2 separate regions of the Homo sapiens genome follow, and region 1 is linked to region 2. The links come from fine-mapping of genetic effects on gene expression. A gene starts in region 2. The other region holds a variant in brackets. All regions are shown on one strand. Distances are from middle to middle.

Region 1 (8,810 bases), 450 kb after region 2:
GGATTCTGATCTTTATTGTAGACATAAAACTTAGGAAAACTGCTGCATAGATAGTGAGAAATTGATAAAAAGGTAAGATGTTACATTGAAAGATAAAATGTAGCACCTTTTAAATATGTTAGCTGCCACGTAAAGAATGGCAATTTTAAAAATCATTATATTGAAAATATAATTTCTAGAACCATGGTTATTAACTGGTATATGTTAGCTGAAAGTTATATAATCAATTTTCAAAAACATGTTAATTAAAACCAATAAAACGTAGATATTTGAAATGTGTGTGTGACTCTCAAATACATTTATCAGGGAATGTAACAACTGGCTTTAGTGTAGTAAACAAAACATTGAAAAGGGGAACCTGAGATTTCTAAGATTAGATCATCTGTCTCTCAACACTGTATGTTCCTAGTATCATTTAAAATTTAAGGACATTACATTTCTATTAACTTGGAAAATTGTATATAATGTCTCAAAATAGGCCATTAATAAATTGTTTACTTGTATTTTAGATCATTAGATTATTGTAGGAATGAGGTCAAAGTTGTGTATCTAATTTCCTTTTCCATCACTAGTGTCTTTAAAGAAGAAAAGCTTTATAATATACAACATCTGAACTAGTCAAACACATGCCAAGGAAAATCTTAATTTGGTTTTCTAAAGAACAACCTGACAGAATATAGCCAAATAAAATGTTTAAGTTAATGCCTTCCTGATAGTAGACCTTTTATATTAATATAAAACAATATATTTTGTGTATATTTTAAGTCTTCAAGATTTATCAAGATATTTTACAAATATAATTTTTTAATTCTGGCAGCACAGAATACTAGGTATATTAATAGTCACTTCTCCTAACAGGACAGATCACTTGTATGCCTTCTTCATTCAGTGGAGTCCAGAAATATATGCAGAAGATACTGGCGAATATACCAGAGAACCTGGATTTATAGTAGTAAAAAAGATTGAGGAGTCTGAAACAATTGAGGATTCTAGTAATCAAGCAGCAGCCAGAGAATGGGAGGTAAGGAGAAAAATATGAAGATTTTAGTCATCTTTTTAGTTTGTATGAATTTATAGCTTTATGGTAGTACAAAGTATAAGTGATGTTTCCACAAAAGAGGAATTTTTTTAAAGGTCAGGTTCACTATCCGTGTTTATTTGTGGTTATTGAATGAATCTGAATAGTGACTTTAATACTATATTTGTCATTCTGCTTTTGCTTTAAAATACTAGAAAACCCACTAGCAATAAAATGACTTTTATTGAGTGTCTTATAGAATATTTAGTTTAGGAAAGATTAACATTATGGCAAAGAAGGAAATAATTTTAATTTTGCTGTTATATTAATTTTCATAAAACATCGATTTCACATCTGATTTGTTTTAATTTCATCTCCTCCATGGAGGAGGTACGGCAGTCATTTAACACATCTGTGCATAGTATTTGCATAGCATCTATACAAATTACTACTCCTTTCTATGTTTCAGACCTAAGCATTATCTTGACTTAAATTTTTCAATAATAATTTTAAGGAAATAAGCAGGTGCTAATTTTATAAAGTAGTAGAAATTTTATATGCTCAGATTTACTGAACTTGTTTAAATGGTCAAAGTTATACTAACAAACTTTTTGTAACTCCTCTTAGATATATCTTAAGATTACATATTACCTTTTACATGCTTTGTCTTATAAGGTTGGTAGGGTGGCAATATCTGTTGGTGTTGCCTAGATTAGTCTCTTCTTGATGCATTAGAAAATGTAGAGCAGATGCTAAAATGTTATAATAAATGTAATCAAATTTTTTTATTCATTGGGTGTTAATGTTTGTGGCTGTTAATGTGATATGAATGTATCTTGCATGCACTTAACATGTATAGTAATTGAAGGTATACATGGCTTGTCTTTTGTTTAAAATGCAAACTGATTTGGAATGTGTCTAATGTCATTCTGTGTAGTATATACAGCATCAGTTTCTACTGTGACTCCAATATAAGGGAGGGAAAGAAGAACATATCGACCATGTATTTTGGGTTATTTTAATACTTAAACCAACATTATCAATCTTCATACCAGCTTTATTCATAATGGCCCCAAATTGGAAAGTCTCATTAGCAGGAGAATGGATGAATACATTTTTGAATACTTACAGAATTCCAAATAACAATAAAAAAGATCTACTGGTACAGGCAATGACATGGATGAATTTTACAAATAATATGTTGAGTAAAAGAAGCCTGACACAAATGAACATATACTATGTAATTTCATTTACACGAAGTTCAAAAGGGCAAAACTAGTCAGAAATCCATCACACTACTTGATACTGGGCTGTGACAGGGTGGCTCAGGGACAGGAGGGAACTTTATTGCGTTCTGGGGATGTTCTATATGTTACTCTCAGTGGTGGTTACTTGGGTGATTACATATGTAAAATATATATAATATATATAATACGTATATAATATATATATGTATCTTATATATATATATATTATATACATCTATGTCCCTGAGCTGTGTTTTTAAGATTAGCTTTAGAAGGTACTTAAAATAGCCCAGGTGATCAAAGATACGTACCTAACTAAGGCAGCAACAGTTGAAGGTAGAGTGGAAGGTGATGAAATAAAGCTAGAAGAAAAGGTATTAGCTAGCTAATTACACAGGATTCAGTGACAACCTGGTAACCATAAAGTTATCTCCAGCTTGGGTGGCACGGTGGATGGCAGAATTGTCAGTCATGAACGGGAATTGAGAGCTTTCTCTCCATTGGGGTTGGAGTACTTAACTTTGGAAATAAGAGACTATTGACTATTTTGATTCAAAGGAACTGTCTCAGTTTCTGTGCAAGACTCTGCAGGGTATAATTTCTAAAGGAAAAATAAATCTCCTCACCAGTCCTTTGACCGGAATTGGTGCAGTTCAAAAGAAAATGGAAGAGAAAAAAATAATTTTGGAAACTCCTTGCTACATTGTCTGAAAATATTACCGCAGTATCCAGTATAGCAGCACTAGCCATATGTGGCTATTGAGTACTTGAAATTCATGTAATGCCACTAAGGGACTGCATTTTTAGTTTTAATTATTAATTAAAAACCGATACTTGGTTCCATTATTGGACAATTTTTAAATATATTAGGAATAACTTAGATATATGATCTACTTTTTCAACTGTAAATTTCATGAAATCTAAATATGATCTAAATCAGTCTAAATCTAATTAAGGTCAAGTATTTCCTATGAAAATTTAGTGCCTGAATTGAGATGTGCTGTAGTGTAAAATATTCTACTTCCTATAGCCACTAGCCACATGTAACCATTGAGCATTTAAAATGTGGCCAATCTCAATTGAAATGAGCTGTAGTATAAAATACACACTGGAGGCCGGGCGCGGTGGCTCACGCCTGTAATCCCAGCACTTTGGGAGGCCGAGGCGGGTGGATCATGAGGTCAGGAGATCGAGACCATCCTGGCTAACAAGGTGAAACCCCGTCTCTACTAAAAATACAAAAAATTAGCCGGGCGCGGTGGTGGGTGCCTGTAGTCCCAGCTACTCGGGAGGCTGAGGCAGGAGAATGGCGTGAACCCGGGAAGCGGAGCTTGCAGTGAGCCGAGATTGCGCCACTGCAGTCCGCAGTCCGGCCTGGGCGACAGAGCGAGACTCCGTCTCAAAAAAAAAAAAAAAAAAAAAAAAAAAAAAATACACACTGGATTTTAATGACTTAGAATGGAAAGAAAAAAGAATGTAAACATCTTGTTTGTTTATACTGATTAATATTGAAGTGATAATATTTTGAATACATTAGGTTAAATAAACTATATTAATACAATTAATTTCACTTTTTTAATGTGGTGTCTAGAAAATTTACAATTGTAATGTATCTTACATTATATTGCTCTTGTGCAGTGCAGGTCTATGCCTCATGGATACTAAGTGCCTAAAAAAATGTTTGTTAAACTAGGGAGGCCGAGGGTAACAAATAAAAAATGTTAAACTAGGGTGGATCACGAGGTCAGGAGTTTGAGACCAGCCTGGCCAATATGGTAAAACCCTGTCTCTACTAAAAATACAAAAATTAGCTGGACGTGGTAGCACACGCCTGTAGTCCCAGTTGCTCGGGAGGCTGAGGCAGGAGAATCACTTGAACCTGGGAGGCGGAGATTGCAGTGAGCCAAGATCACACCACTGCACTCCAGCCTGGGCAACAGAGTGAGACTCCATCTCAAAAAAAATAAATAAATAAAATAAAAATGTTTGTTAAACTAATGAGTACTCATTTAAGTGAAAGAGTAATTTTAAATGTTAACATGATTTATTTTAAAACAGGAAGAATTTGGCTAAAGCCCTTATATAAAACAGTAGTACTTCAGAATGTGCCGTGATGTTTTTTATTTTTTTGTTCTACAAAGGAATGGAGAATAGGTGTCCTAGAATTTAGGATGAACTTGTTATGGCTACCAACTTGGGCATCAGTTAGATTTAAACTAACACCTCTACTCACTGTTATTCTGCTTTAGTGATACTTAAAAAAGATCTTTATTATCCCTGACTGTTACTCAAGCAGAAATATATTGCTAGCCAGAAATGTATACATTGACTGGGGAAGTTTGTATATGATAAATTTGGTAAACTTATTGTTTGCTTTTTTCTCCCTTTCCCTATGTAAGTGTCATAAGGCAGGGATTTGTCAATTTCATACACTATTATATCTTCAGAACTAAGAATTGTATAGGCATATAGTTCATTCTCAATATTTATTAATGGATAAACTTGGGCGTAGATTAAAATTAAGGTATAAAGCTTCTAATCTTTCAAGATTGCTCTATTTCCTGAAATAAGTTCTTACATCAGTTGTAGTAAATATTTTCATAAAGCCATAGATTCTGGACATTTTAACTAATAGTCCACAGTCTGTCATTTACATTTTTTTTTGTTCTGTTTAAACATATTCAGTGAAAGGGAATTTGTTACCTCAAAGGGCAATACTTTACATTTTAGGACAGCTCTGTTAGAAAGTTATTTGTTACAATAAGCTTAAGGAAACATATCTTTGTAAATTGGATTCATTTATCTTTATTCTGTCTTCCAATGCAAGTCAATAACAACAAGAAACATTTTCTATTTACTGCGATAGTGTGAAAATGTTTGTCTTCCCTTTTAATCTTGTTTCAGAATTATTTTTTCCAGTACTTCAACTGTTTAACTTTATGAACTCTATTCAGATCTTATTCATATCAGTACCC[T/C]AAAATATGTTAAAAGAGTTCATAAACTATGGCACCCCAAATTACTAAAATGTACACTTGGGATAGCAGGAAAAATTCCGTAATATTTTTAAAAATTTTAATTTCCAAATATGAACATTGAAGACCAGTCCTATTGAAGACAGACAGAAACATATATTTACTAAGAAAAAGAAAATTTAGCCAAATTTTAAGGTGGTCAGGAGTAAAAGTTCCTAATGATAAATCAGTTCCTAAGTATTTGGATAAAGGATCTGAGAAATACTATTCTTACTGCTCACGATGTGTAAAGGACTGAATTTCCTCTTTTTGTAGTGTTACTTTGTATGCCACATGATAAAGAGTACTTTGGTGTGGGTCGGGCGTGGTGGCTCACGCCTGTAATCCCAGCACTTTGGGAGGCCGAGACAGGTGGATCACGAGGTCAGGAGATCGAGACCATCCTGGCTAACATGGTGAAACCCCGTCTCTACTAAAAATACAAAAAATTAGCCGGGCGTGGTGGCGGGCGCTTCTTGTTGTAGCTACTCGGGAGGCTGAGGCAGGAGAATGGCGTGAACCTGGGAGGTGGAGCGTGCAGTGAGCCAAGATCATGCCACTGCACTGCAGCCTGGGCGACAGAGCGAGACTCCACCTCAAAAAAAAAAAAAAGGAGCTATGCCTGAATTAATTGCGTCAACATGGCTGCTATTGATAAGAAAGCATGTTTTTAAACAATCAAGGCACAAAATGATTAAGGAAACCTTTCTTCATAGTGAACCAAACTTATGTTTTTGGTGTGATACCCAAATAAAAGAAATATGCATTATGAGTCTTGCTTTTGGGGATCTGATAACCTTATTTGATAACTGAGAAGGAACTACTTATTACAGTCTTTCCCCTGATTTCTGCCGGTATTCAACACAGGAAGTCAATAAGTATATCCAGTGTTGTGAGGATACTGTTTGATGTGGGGCTTTGCAGTTCTGTGATAAATATTACTTTCTGTTTTTTGATACAGATTTTTTATGCCTTTTCACTGAAAAGGGAAGTGCTCTAATGGCATTTTAACAAATTGTCAGGCAAGTCCTGAGGTGAAGATGAGGCAGAATGCCTATTGACATCTGCTATTTCGTGATGATCGCACTTTTGTTCAATAAATATACAAAAATAAAAGATTAATAGTAAAACAAATTCACATGTGCCATTCAGCTTCATCAGCTTATTTCTTCTGTGTCCCTCCTTTTCTCCAATTGTTCATAGTTATTCAAATGTCATAAAAATATTTAGAATACATGTAATATGTACAGTATGTATTTTTACAATTTGTTTTTTGAGTCATGATCCAACTAAGTTCTCAAATGCTGCAGTTAGTTAAAATATCTCTTAAGTCTCTCTAAATGTAGGTTCCTCCTCCATTGCTTTGCTTTGCTTTTTTATTTCAGTTTTTAAGAAATCAGATTTTTTTTCTGTAGAATGTCACACAGTCTGGAATATGCTGTTTGCATCCCCATAGTGTCTGTTAACATGTTATTCTACCACTTGAATGATTGATAGATCTAGAGCAATACACTTAAGTATAGATTATCATCTTTATTTTACAGATAATTTCTTTGTATTTTTTTATTTATTTTATTTTTTTTGAGATGGAGTCTCCGTCTGTCGCTCAGGCTGGAGTGCAGTGGCGTCATCTTGGCTCACTGCAAGCTCCGCCTCCTGGATTCACGCCATTCTCCTGCCTCAGCTTCCCGAGCAGCTGGGACTACAGGCGCCCGCCACCACGCCCGGCTAATTTTTTTGTATTTTTAGTAGAGACGGAGTTTCATCGTGTTAGCTAGGATGGTCTCAATCTCCTGCCCTCATGATCCGCCTGCCTTGGCCTCCCAAAGTGCTGGGATTACAGGCGTGAGCCACCGTGTCTGGCCCAGATAATTTCTTTAAGCTGGTTTTTTATTTGGCTAAAATTCTCTTAGTGGTTAATCTCTAATTCAGAGCCTATACCTTTTCCACCATACCAAGTACTCAACTTTGGCGGAACCTTTGCATCATGATGGGGAGCTTTCAAACATATCATTGCCAAGGTCACAAATCAGACCAATTAAATCAGAATAATTGGGGCTAGGACCTAGTTATCAGTGTTGTTTAAAGCTACCTAGGTAGTTACATTGTGCAGTCAAGGTGCGAAAACTAGTATACCACCATGCCACAACTTCAGGTGTTGTGTTAAACATATACAATATTAAGACTGTGGAAGACTCTTTAGACTATATTGATTATAATATAGATCAGCTTTTGAGTTCCTGTCATGCAAGTTATATGAAATACTTTTCATATTCCTTTCATCTGGGCTGCTGCATCAAAAACATAAATTTGGTTCACTATGGAAAAAGGTTTGTTTAATCATTTTGTGCCTTGATTTTTAAGAAAACATATTTTCTCCTCAGTAACAGCCATGCAGATACAATTGATGTTGTCATAGCTCCCTTACATACCACAGGACTTCCATCATGTTGTGTACTCAGAGATACTACAAGGAGAGGAAGATCAAAAAACATACCAGGCTGTAAGTCAATGATCTTTGAACTTTGTCTTCTTCAACTTTGTCCATCAAATACCCTTTAAAATTTAATATATTTGGCAAGTGCCTGAGGATCCAGTAGTATAGCTTAAAGGAGTGACCACCACAATAAGCTCAGATTCATGTAAAACTTTTCATTCAGCTTTATAATTTATTTGTTGTAATATAAAGATGAATTTGGAATTTCTTATCATGAAGTCAAAATGGTAATACTGTAAGTTGAATCGCTTTTATCCTGCCATCATTTATCATGAGACATTACATGCTGGACAATATCAGCATCCACCCCAAGTACCAACTTCAAGAGGCTGTATACTAGAATTTTCTGAAAGTCAAGGATTCATTGTGTCACATGTTCAGTATGCCAGTCTTGCTGCTTGACCACACAGGCCTCAAAGGTGGAGCTTTTTATGCTAACATTGCTTTTTGGTTCCTTTCCTTTGGATTGACTTTTCCAGTCCTTTTGGGATAAAAGCTGGCAGAGAAAGCTTTCCAAAATTTTTCATCTCTAATTTTATACCACATGTACTTCAGTATCTTTCATACTACAAACCTAATTAAAGTATCCAGTTCTCCTAGGATGATAAATAAAAACAGCTAAGAAACTGGTTTTATTAAATCAACTTTACTTGATTTATTTAGTCTCCCACACATTTACTTGATTAAATTTTAAGAACGAATTTACTAAGATTATGTGTTGATAGGGTGTGTAACAGTATTTTTCATTCTTAAAATGATTCGTATTTGAATAAAATTGCTCTGGCTTCCCTCTTGCTTCTCACCTTTGCCAAAATACTGATAAAAAGACATTCTGTACAGTTTTGGGGTTTTGAAACAACCTGTATCTTTTTAGGTACATGACATTAGTCACATTTTCTCAATAATTGAAGTTTAGATTATTTAAGTATAAATGTAAATATGTTAACTACTTACTATATAAACCTCTATACTATTATTCAAAATATGTTAGAATCTGCCTTTCAGCTTAGTTTTTAAAATAATTTATAGTCTTTCCA
Region 2 (8,810 bases):
GCCAATTGAACAGATCCTGTCCTTATTTAATGAAGGGATCCAAGGACTATACAGGCTGTGGAAAAAGCCTGTCTGCAAGGTGGGAAAATAAACCTGCTGATGAGATATGGACAGAATTGTGATGGCATTTCCACCTCCTGAGGCTCAGAGAAGCTCCCTGTCTTATATTTCACTCTACTATTGTGCCAGAAAATTTCCCTTTTCACCTTCACCAGTCTAGGTTGAATTTCTATATGTCCAACCAAAAATAGGCTAAAATACTATATACCTCATTGGATTGCTATGAGAATTAAATAAGTAGTATGCAAAGGAGTGCCTACCACAGAAAGAGACACATAGAAGTACCAATAAATGTTGAATATTATTATTAATATTAGTTGATGCACAGTAGTATTTTGAATCCGTTATAATAAAAACATTGTGGAAATAAACTAATGGTCATAGATTTCTTAGTTATATTTGAGAATCTGAGATCACACATTAAACATACTTGTTATTGTAGCATTGGACTCAAAGAGAAGTGAAACGAGTTGTAGCTTTATCAGGATCTTGCTGCTTCTGCAAGAACTAAGCCACGTTTGTGTTAGATTCAGAGGCAAGAAAAGAGCATCCTGATATTTGAAGTACATAATTATCCACATTCTTCTTTCCTGAGGAAAGGGCCATCAGAGCTAAGTCTTTTAGTCAAGAAGCATCTTTGATTCACAAATACTGTGTGATCCTTAATGTCCCATGACTATTATCTAGAATTGTTTCAGCCTGAAAGTGCAGAGAGAGGGTAGAAATGTGCATTTATATCTTTAGTATATATCATTAATGAATCTGTTGTGACATTTATCTATAGTCATGAAATGAAAAAATAATTGGGGCATAAGTGACTTTGAACTACTACTATTTAGTTCTCCAAATTTAATTTTTTTCACAACGGGAAAATAGCTATCAAGAAGACAAACTTTTAATAGCCCTTTAATGAAACTGTCTTGGTATTTCCTTTTCCCTTAAAAAACTCATTTACAAATTGTTTCACATTTCTACCTTGGTTCTGATTTTCTAAAAGCAAATTTGGTATGAAAGAAGTGCAACAGAAAGACAGGCTAGTGTCCAAGTATCTAAAATGGTTTGCCTCTGTGCAATGGAAGGAGAATATGCTCAGTGGTCAGTGCCAATACCTGGAAGTATACCAGATGCTTGGCAGTGTAGCATAGATCTCAGTGAAGGAATTCAAAGTAAGACAAAGTAAAGGAGAAAAGAACGGACTATACAGAGGTATCCCTACACAAAATGGTGAAAGAAGTAGTGTATATTGCATGTCAGCCTACCTCCAGCATCAGCTCTCTCCATGTTTCCTTGACTCCCTGAAAGCAGATGACTTAGTGCCCACCTCATGCATTCCCCGTTTCAGACTTAAATATTCACTTCCTGTCCTATAATCCCTCAATGCATCAGCAAGCACCTATTTGAGCACTGACGAAGATAAAATACACACAAATATAAATTTGCCATTGCCCCAATCCTCCAGAAACTTGCCGTTTAGTGGGGGAGGAGAAGCAAGTATGTAGATAACTAAAACAAAAAGGCAGTGTGGTGTAGAGAGGGACAAAGAACTACAGAGATGAGAACTAGGAGAAGAAAAGAAGAATAATCTGAGGTGTAGGTTAAGATGTGGTATGTGGGAGGCTGAGACAGGAGAATTATTGGAATCCTGGAGGCAGAGGTTGCAGTGAGCTGAGATAGTGCCACTGCACTTCAGCCTGGGCAACAGAGTGAGACTCCGTTTCAGAGAAAAAAAAAAAAATATGTTTGCTGTGGTGTGACAGAGCTAAGGGAGGAGTTCCTAGAAGACAATGTACAAAGTCATGAGAAGAAGTTCAAGGAAAAGATCCTGGATTTGATAAGTTTAACGTAACTATAGAATGCAGTTTAAATGAGATGACTCATGGATTGCATTGATTTATTCCTAGAATAACAAATATTAAAGGAGGTAACAAACAAATTGCATAAGATAAGTAAAGGGAAAAAAGACAGCCAATTATTCAAATAATTCTAGCATAAGAAATAATACAAAACTATAAGGACAGCAGCATTTCCCCCATCTGTTCATGTTTTGAGGCACAATGGGAAAACCCCCACTTTTTATTATCAAATGGTTTACATAATGATCAAGTACATTAGATCAAAACAAAAAAAATGGGCTTTAATAATATGGAAAACATCCTTTTCCTGCAGAGACAGATTGGGGACTGAAAGCGTCAGTTGGCTGGGTGGCTCATTAGCTGTCTTTAATGAGTGGCACCACCTTGGAAATAACCAGGGCCCTGAAATAAAGATGAAAAGGCAACAAAGAGGGGACTCTCTGTTACCCTTAGGCAGGCAAATCAAAGCAACTGAGCCTAAAAAGAGATGGGAAAAGTTCACTTCAAAGCATTATTATTATCTTGCTCATTTCTGAATAACTGAAACCAACGGACCTCCCAACACACTTGCTGTCCTTTTTTTGTCCATGGGGAAACAGGCCAGTCTATGAGTTTACTGGTTATCCATTATTTCCATCTTGCAAACATCCCCTATTCCTTCTTTTGCTAACCAAATACTTTTTTCCCTTTTGAGAATCTTTCATCCCCAAGAGGATGCAGGTGGTTGATTGTGTGAGCCAGGACAGCCAATAAGAGTACACCTTCAAAGATTGATCTGCTCAACAGAACAAGAGACTTGATTTCTTTGTAAGGTTACAAAATTTGTCAACTGTGTAGGGCTGGCACTATGGACATAATGTGAGGGGAATGAAACCAACACAGGAAGCAATGCCGAAAGCAAGTTAGAGAAAGAGAAAATCATATTCTTCCTAATGTTGTTAAGCCCAGGACAAGCCCTGCTATTTCTAGTACTTCTGAGTTACACGGGTCAATGCATTTTCTCTGCCTAAGTTAGAATTGCATCCCTGTCACTTGTTACTTCGAGTCCTCAATGCAGTACGTTTTTGAGCTACACTTTTCCATAGGACACCAAAGAGACTTTGAAATCAAGATTTTCCCTGTTTCATGATTATGGGTAGTGTGCATGCTGTAGCATGAAGATGTTCAGAGTGCCATACCACCTTAAGAATAATTACTGAAAGAGGAAGAATGAAAGCAACCAGGATGAAAGTAAAGTTTATTTTTCACCTTCCTTCACCACTGATAGAAAGGAATGATTTGTGTTGATAGTCTAAGGAAATTCACATTTTGATCTCCCAATGAATCACCTATGGAAAATTAGAAACATGATGTTGTCATTATAAAGTGGCCCTGGTCCTGCAGATAATATTTGCAGCTTCAGTAAAAAAGTAAAAGATCAAACCTTAATTGATTACTTATTTTGGGGTGCACATGGCACTAAATTGCAAGTGGGGATGGAAGGGCGCAAATATCTTAGGAGGGAGGACATCTTGACCCAAATAGACAGATTCCACTACAGTTCTATGAAAAAATCACATGTACATTACTTAGTAGGGTTAGCAAAGTCTAACTAATTTATAATACTGGGAAAACAAAGTAGCTTTATCACAGAGTCTGAACTGAGATAATTATAAAATACATACCTAGTCTATACATTGCTTGTAGAAGATTCTCAGTAAAATCTTTCTGATAGAATAAAAATTAAACGCTATCAGTTTCAACATAACAGAAAATTTAAGCTGCGAATGCTCGTAAAGAAATTAGGTAAAAATAATGGAGAACAAAACCCGCAATCGGCTTATCAATCGGCTTACTGTTGACACGCCACGCCACTCAGAATAGTATCTAATTTTCTTGATCCCTTATCTCAGGTAAAGCTATTGACTCGGGGAAATAGGTTATGCGGAAACCATGAAAGTTTCTAGTCTGGCCGACCCTAGGTTCAACACTCTATTATTCCAGACAAGCGATGAGCTCCTGTCGCTAAATTTCAACATCCCTGTCTGTCAAATGGGAATAATAATGATTCTCTCATTGGGTGGCTGTGAGAGGTGAGTGAAACAAGACGGAAATTTGACCCAGGAAATATCTGTACCTCTTACTTTAAAGAACAGAATTAAAAAATAATAATAAATGATCAGAAATTAAGGTAGAATAGAGTGAACACTAATAGCGGGAAATAGCTAATTTGCAGGTGAGGTGGCTGAAAGGCTCCTACGCTTGAAGTGTTTGCTGGATGCACAGGAGATCTGGGATACATCCCGAACTCGGCAACAGGACCAGCTCCTTTCCTCAGGGTTACAGAACAGCCAGGTTCCAGTTCAGGTCTGGGAATCTACCCATCCAGAGTTTGCGCCCTTTTCGTTTTGCAATTTAAAACCGGGTTGGAGGGGGAAGGAGTGAAGGCAGCATGCGGAGAAAGTAAATTACAGTTCAGGTGACAGGAACAAGAAAATCTCCAAGGTCAGGGTGGGGTGTCAACGAATTATGCAAAACACTGCGGAATGAGGAGTCACAAACGCCTTGCAAAGAATTCTGAATTTTAGAAGCTCTTTGCAGAACCCCCTTCAGCCCGCTCCAAGCTGCCTTGGGTCCCTTTCTAGGCTGTCAGACTTCGCCTTCCTTTCCTCCTTGTTTTTCCCAGCAACCAAAGCATCTGAAGAACATTTTTTTCCTCCGTAAATCTGAACAAATTTCCTTGCAGCTTTCCTTGCAGAAGCTTTTTTATCGCTTTAACAAAACTTTCCTCTGCTTCTCTAGGGAGAGCCTAGTATTAGAGCTGCCCGACAGGCGGGACCCCGAAATCGGGGCAGCTCTGGCTTAGTCCAGGCTATTCGAGTGGGCGCCTGAACTGGAGGCGCCGTCTCCACCGGGATGGGGATCCTAGTGCAGGCAGACGCCTGGCAGGACTCGGCGAGCTGGGGTCCCCACCGCGGTAGCCAGAGCAGAAACCCGAACCCCAGCCAGAGGGGCCGCGCGCGGGGAGGGGTGCGCGCTAAGCCAGCGTGGCTTCCGCAGGAGCTATTTTTAGCGGTGCGTGCCTCCCCCCGCCCCCGGCGTGGTAGCCTCCGGCTCGCGGCGCCCCACGGCTCCTCTCAGTCTCCCCCGCCGCTGCCGGCTCTTGGTAGCTTCCACGCGGGCAGGTCCGGAAACTGAGCATGTCTGCAAGCGCTCAGCGGCGCCGGCAGCAGCGGGGCTAGAGCTGGGCTGCGTCAGGCTGAGCCCATTCACCTCGCGGCCACAGGAGCTCAGCGCCGGCGCCGCGCCGCCCAGCCCCGCCGAGAGGGGCGCACTCGCCGCCGCGGGGCCCGCCGCCGCTCACCGCAGCCCCCTCCTGGCGACCCGCAAGTAAGTTTGTGAGGCTGCTGGGCGTTAGGGCGAGGGCTTGGCGCCCGGGGGAGTCCAGGAGGGATAGCGAGAGGCGCGGCTGGCGCCCGGGAGAGCCGGCTGGCCTCTGCCCCCTGTGCCTGGCGCCTCTCCGAGCCACTTAGCCAATTTGAAAGCGGGTGGCCATTGGGATGCTCGAGCGGGGACGACGGGCAGAGCAGGAGGGCAGAACTAGCTCCAGCGGGGGCCCAGAGGGCGGACTTGGGAAGAAGGAAAGACCGCGCGGCGAGGGAGGAGACCGGGCGGCGAGGGAGGAGACCGGGCGGGGAGGCTGGGTTTGGGGCGCGGGAGCCCGGCCAGGGACAGCCGCAGAAGGAAAGTGGGGGTGTCGCCGGGGGATAGAGTGGGAGCAGCGTGAGAGCAGTGTTGGGGGCGCAGAGTGGAGGGCAAGCGTGTCTTGAACAGAACGGCAGGAGGATGGGTGGAAAGTGGGGCGCGTGGAAAGCGGATTTGGACGAGAGCAAAGGACGCCGGTGGAAGGGACAGTGGGCTCCGGAGGGGCGAGTGGATTCGGATAATTTGGGGAATCAGTAAAAGGCTAGGGGGCACATCATGATGGAGTCAGCCTGGAATCTGTCTCCCGCTAGAGTACCCGAGGCCACATGTTGGGAACTGGCTGGGGAAAGGATGGATGTAGAAAGTGGCCTGGAGGGCCGACTGGAAAATCGCTGAGGGATTTGGGTGAAGAGGGGGGGAGCTGTGCAGTATCGGGCGGAGGAACTGGGCTGCTGGTAGGGCCTGAAAGGTTCAGGAGAGGGTTGGAGGCTTCCCCGTGCCGCCCCTTGAATAGTGATTTAGTACTGTTATCTGAGGTTCACTTTCACCCCTGGCTCCTCCTCCGTCTACTACCCGGCTTGGACGCACCTCGGCTCGCTGTAGGCGAGCTTTAGGAGATTTAAATAGACATTAGGCAGTGGGGAAGGTAGTCGTTTACGGGGGGAGCTGCTCGGGCTTCCGTTCAGTGGTTCCCGGCACGCTCAGGGTGCAGTGTAGGGTCTGAATGTGTGTATTGCGGGGGTAGGGGGAGTGGTGTCAGTTCTAGGCCACAGGAATTCGTGGTCTGGCCCCAGAGGTGCGGTGTTTTTGGCCGGGAAGTCAGGCAGAAGTCTGCAGCGTGCAACTCGCAGCGGGGCGTGTGTGTGCGTGTGTGCGCGCGCGTGTGCATGTTTCCGGCCCGGGGTCGCGTGTGTGGCTGCAGCCTGTCTCCGTGACAAGAAGATCCAGGGATCTACGGGCGGCACGGGGAAGGGATTAAGGGGAACATACTTCCCTACGTCTTTTCTGCCTCCTTTTCCCAGGGTAGCATTCTTTGCTTATCCAATGATGCCTCTTTCTAACCTCTCCCTCTCCACTTACATCCCAAACCTGATGCGGGTCTTCTCTGATTCGGCACTCTAAGGAGGACTCAGCCGCCGGCTGCGACCACCGTGGACTCCCTCTATGGAAGGGAATCCTGGGAGTCCCGGCCGTCAGAGGGGTTCCCAAATCCAAAGGGTCCATCTCCAAGGCGTCACTCCAGGGGTCCGCGGTTCACTTTGCTGCCCCTTGCAGGTGATGCTGTGATTGTTGCCTGCGGACTGGGAAGCACGATGGCTCCAAAAGGCCAGCGGGGCCGAGAAGCAGGGACAGAGACCAGCATTTAAGGGATCTCTGGTGGGGGCCTCCCTGGAGTTCTCCACATGTAAATATAGCGAAAAAAGAAAACACTACGTTACTAGAATAAACACGTCCTAAAATTTCTGTGCAAAAACACCTTTTTGAACAGCAAAGATTTCACCCACCAAAACAAGGAAGCAAGAAGCTTCCACAGTGTGCAGGATCCGAAACAGGACCGGCCCGGCGTTGGGTGAGAGTGGGGGAGGGGTTGTCGGCTTCTCCATCCAGCTTGCCATGTTCTGTCGTCGGTTTCACATTTTCAGAGAGACTTTACCAGATGCAGGAAATGAGGATGAAGGCAACTCTGGAAGGATGCAAAGAAGGGAGAGCAAGCACTGTACCTACTGTCTGCTGTCTAAGAGGGCTGGTCTCATAACTAAAAGGTCCAGTCCCTGAGATCTTGTGTGCAACCGTCAGAAATAGTTCAGGACATCAAATTGCACAGAGAAGATTCAGATGAAGGGAAACAAGAACTCTGTGGAAAACTGTTGGGGACAGTGGCACGAGTTGTCTTGCAAGGTGATGTCTGTCCCGTGGAGGGACACAAGAGCGAGGACAGCATGGTTCTAATGGCCAGGGCATGTCTTCTTATTCCATGTGACAGTGGCTGGCTGAGTTGCTAGTACGTTTTTGAAATATACCCTTTGAAATATGTTGATTATTCTGGACATCTGTAAGGTGGGAGATTTGAATAAAAAGACTTCTGCTGTCATTATTGGCTTTTATGGCTATGATTTTTTTCAGTCATTATTATAAATCATGTGAAGGTAAAATAAATGATCATTTTAGCCATTCTGTTCTGCACAGAATGCTGTTCAAATAAAACATCATCTGATATGTTTGCCTGTATTGTTTTGTTTGGGGGTCACGGAAGAGGGAAAGTCGGCCAAATTGATTAGGGTATCATATAAAAGCAGAGATTAGGTCCGGGTAGATCTTTTGAGTGTGTGCAGGAAAAGGCTTCATTATAGAATGCTAAATTTAATGTGAGATGAGAGAATCTTTTACTCCCGATCTCCTGCATTTGAAATACAAAGGATTGTACCCTTGGGCTGGTTCCTGGTCCTTAAGTGGAAGCCTAACTGGACACTTTTTTTCTGGAGGATTGTTCCCTAAATCCTGGGAAGCTTTAGAAAATAGTCAATGGAATTTTTGTTGCCCTAAGATAAAGTCATTACAAAGAAAAAAAAAAAAGAAGAAGAAGAAGAAAGTAAAGGTGGTGAAATGGCTTGAGGAGGCAGAATGAGAAATAGAGATGTCAGTCAAAGTGGAAGAAGAGAAATCACTTTCTCTCACTTTAGGGATAGATCTTGTTGATAGGCTTAGAGCAGTGATTCTCCACTGGGGGCAGTTTTACCCCCTAGGGGATACTGACAATGTCTGGAGACATTTTTGGTTGTCACAACTTTGGGGGAGAGGTGCTGCTGGTGTCTTGTGGGCCAGGCCAGGGATGCTGTGAACATTCTACAATAAACTGGACAGCCTTCTGCAATTATCCAGCCCAAATGTCAGTAATGCTTAATTTGAGAAACTTGGCTTTCAATAAGATGTGCTTAACATTAAAAGCAACCCCTTTTAGGATACTTTCAAATATTCCTATTGGAAGTCCATCTTGAAAATCAAGAGTAGTTAATAAGAGACTTTCTTTGCAAAATGGTCCATATTCAAAAACACTTGTTTTAAGGAAATTAAAGAGGCTTCCTTTTGGCAGAACTGTTTTTCAGCCTTTAAAAAACAAACAAACAAAAAATCTTAAGACATATTGAGAATTTCTAAAAGGTGAATCATATGCATATGTGCATGTGAGCTAAGTAAACATTGTTTGATAAAACC

Which allele goes with the higher level. Positions count from the first base shown, and alleles are read on the strand shown. Sizes are in standard deviations (SD) of each study's normalised expression.
For the expression in non-classical monocytes of the gene that starts at base 5,105 in region 2, allele C in region 1 goes with a lower level than allele T (large effect, 0.81 SD a copy in Schmiedel 2018).

Evidence for each region.
Region 1: its variant is fine-mapped to the expression of OXR1 in non-classical monocytes (Schmiedel 2018, PIP 0.95).

The regions. Positions count from the first base shown.
Region 1 is chr8:106,712,965-106,721,774 of GRCh38, forward strand. It overlaps OXR1 (oxidation resistance 1), which reads left to right. Exons shown (of 17, transcript NM_001198533.2): 11 at 859-1,021. Among named protein-coding and RNA genes, the nearest start is that of ABRA, 53 kb to the right of the region's middle. The variant T/C (reference allele first, on the strand shown) is at 5,241.
Region 2 is chr8:106,265,086-106,273,895 of GRCh38, forward strand. It overlaps OXR1 (oxidation resistance 1), which reads left to right and starts at 5,105. Exons shown (of 17, transcript NM_001198533.2): 1 at 5,105-5,282. RefSeq lists silencers at 4,830-5,079, 5,100-5,459.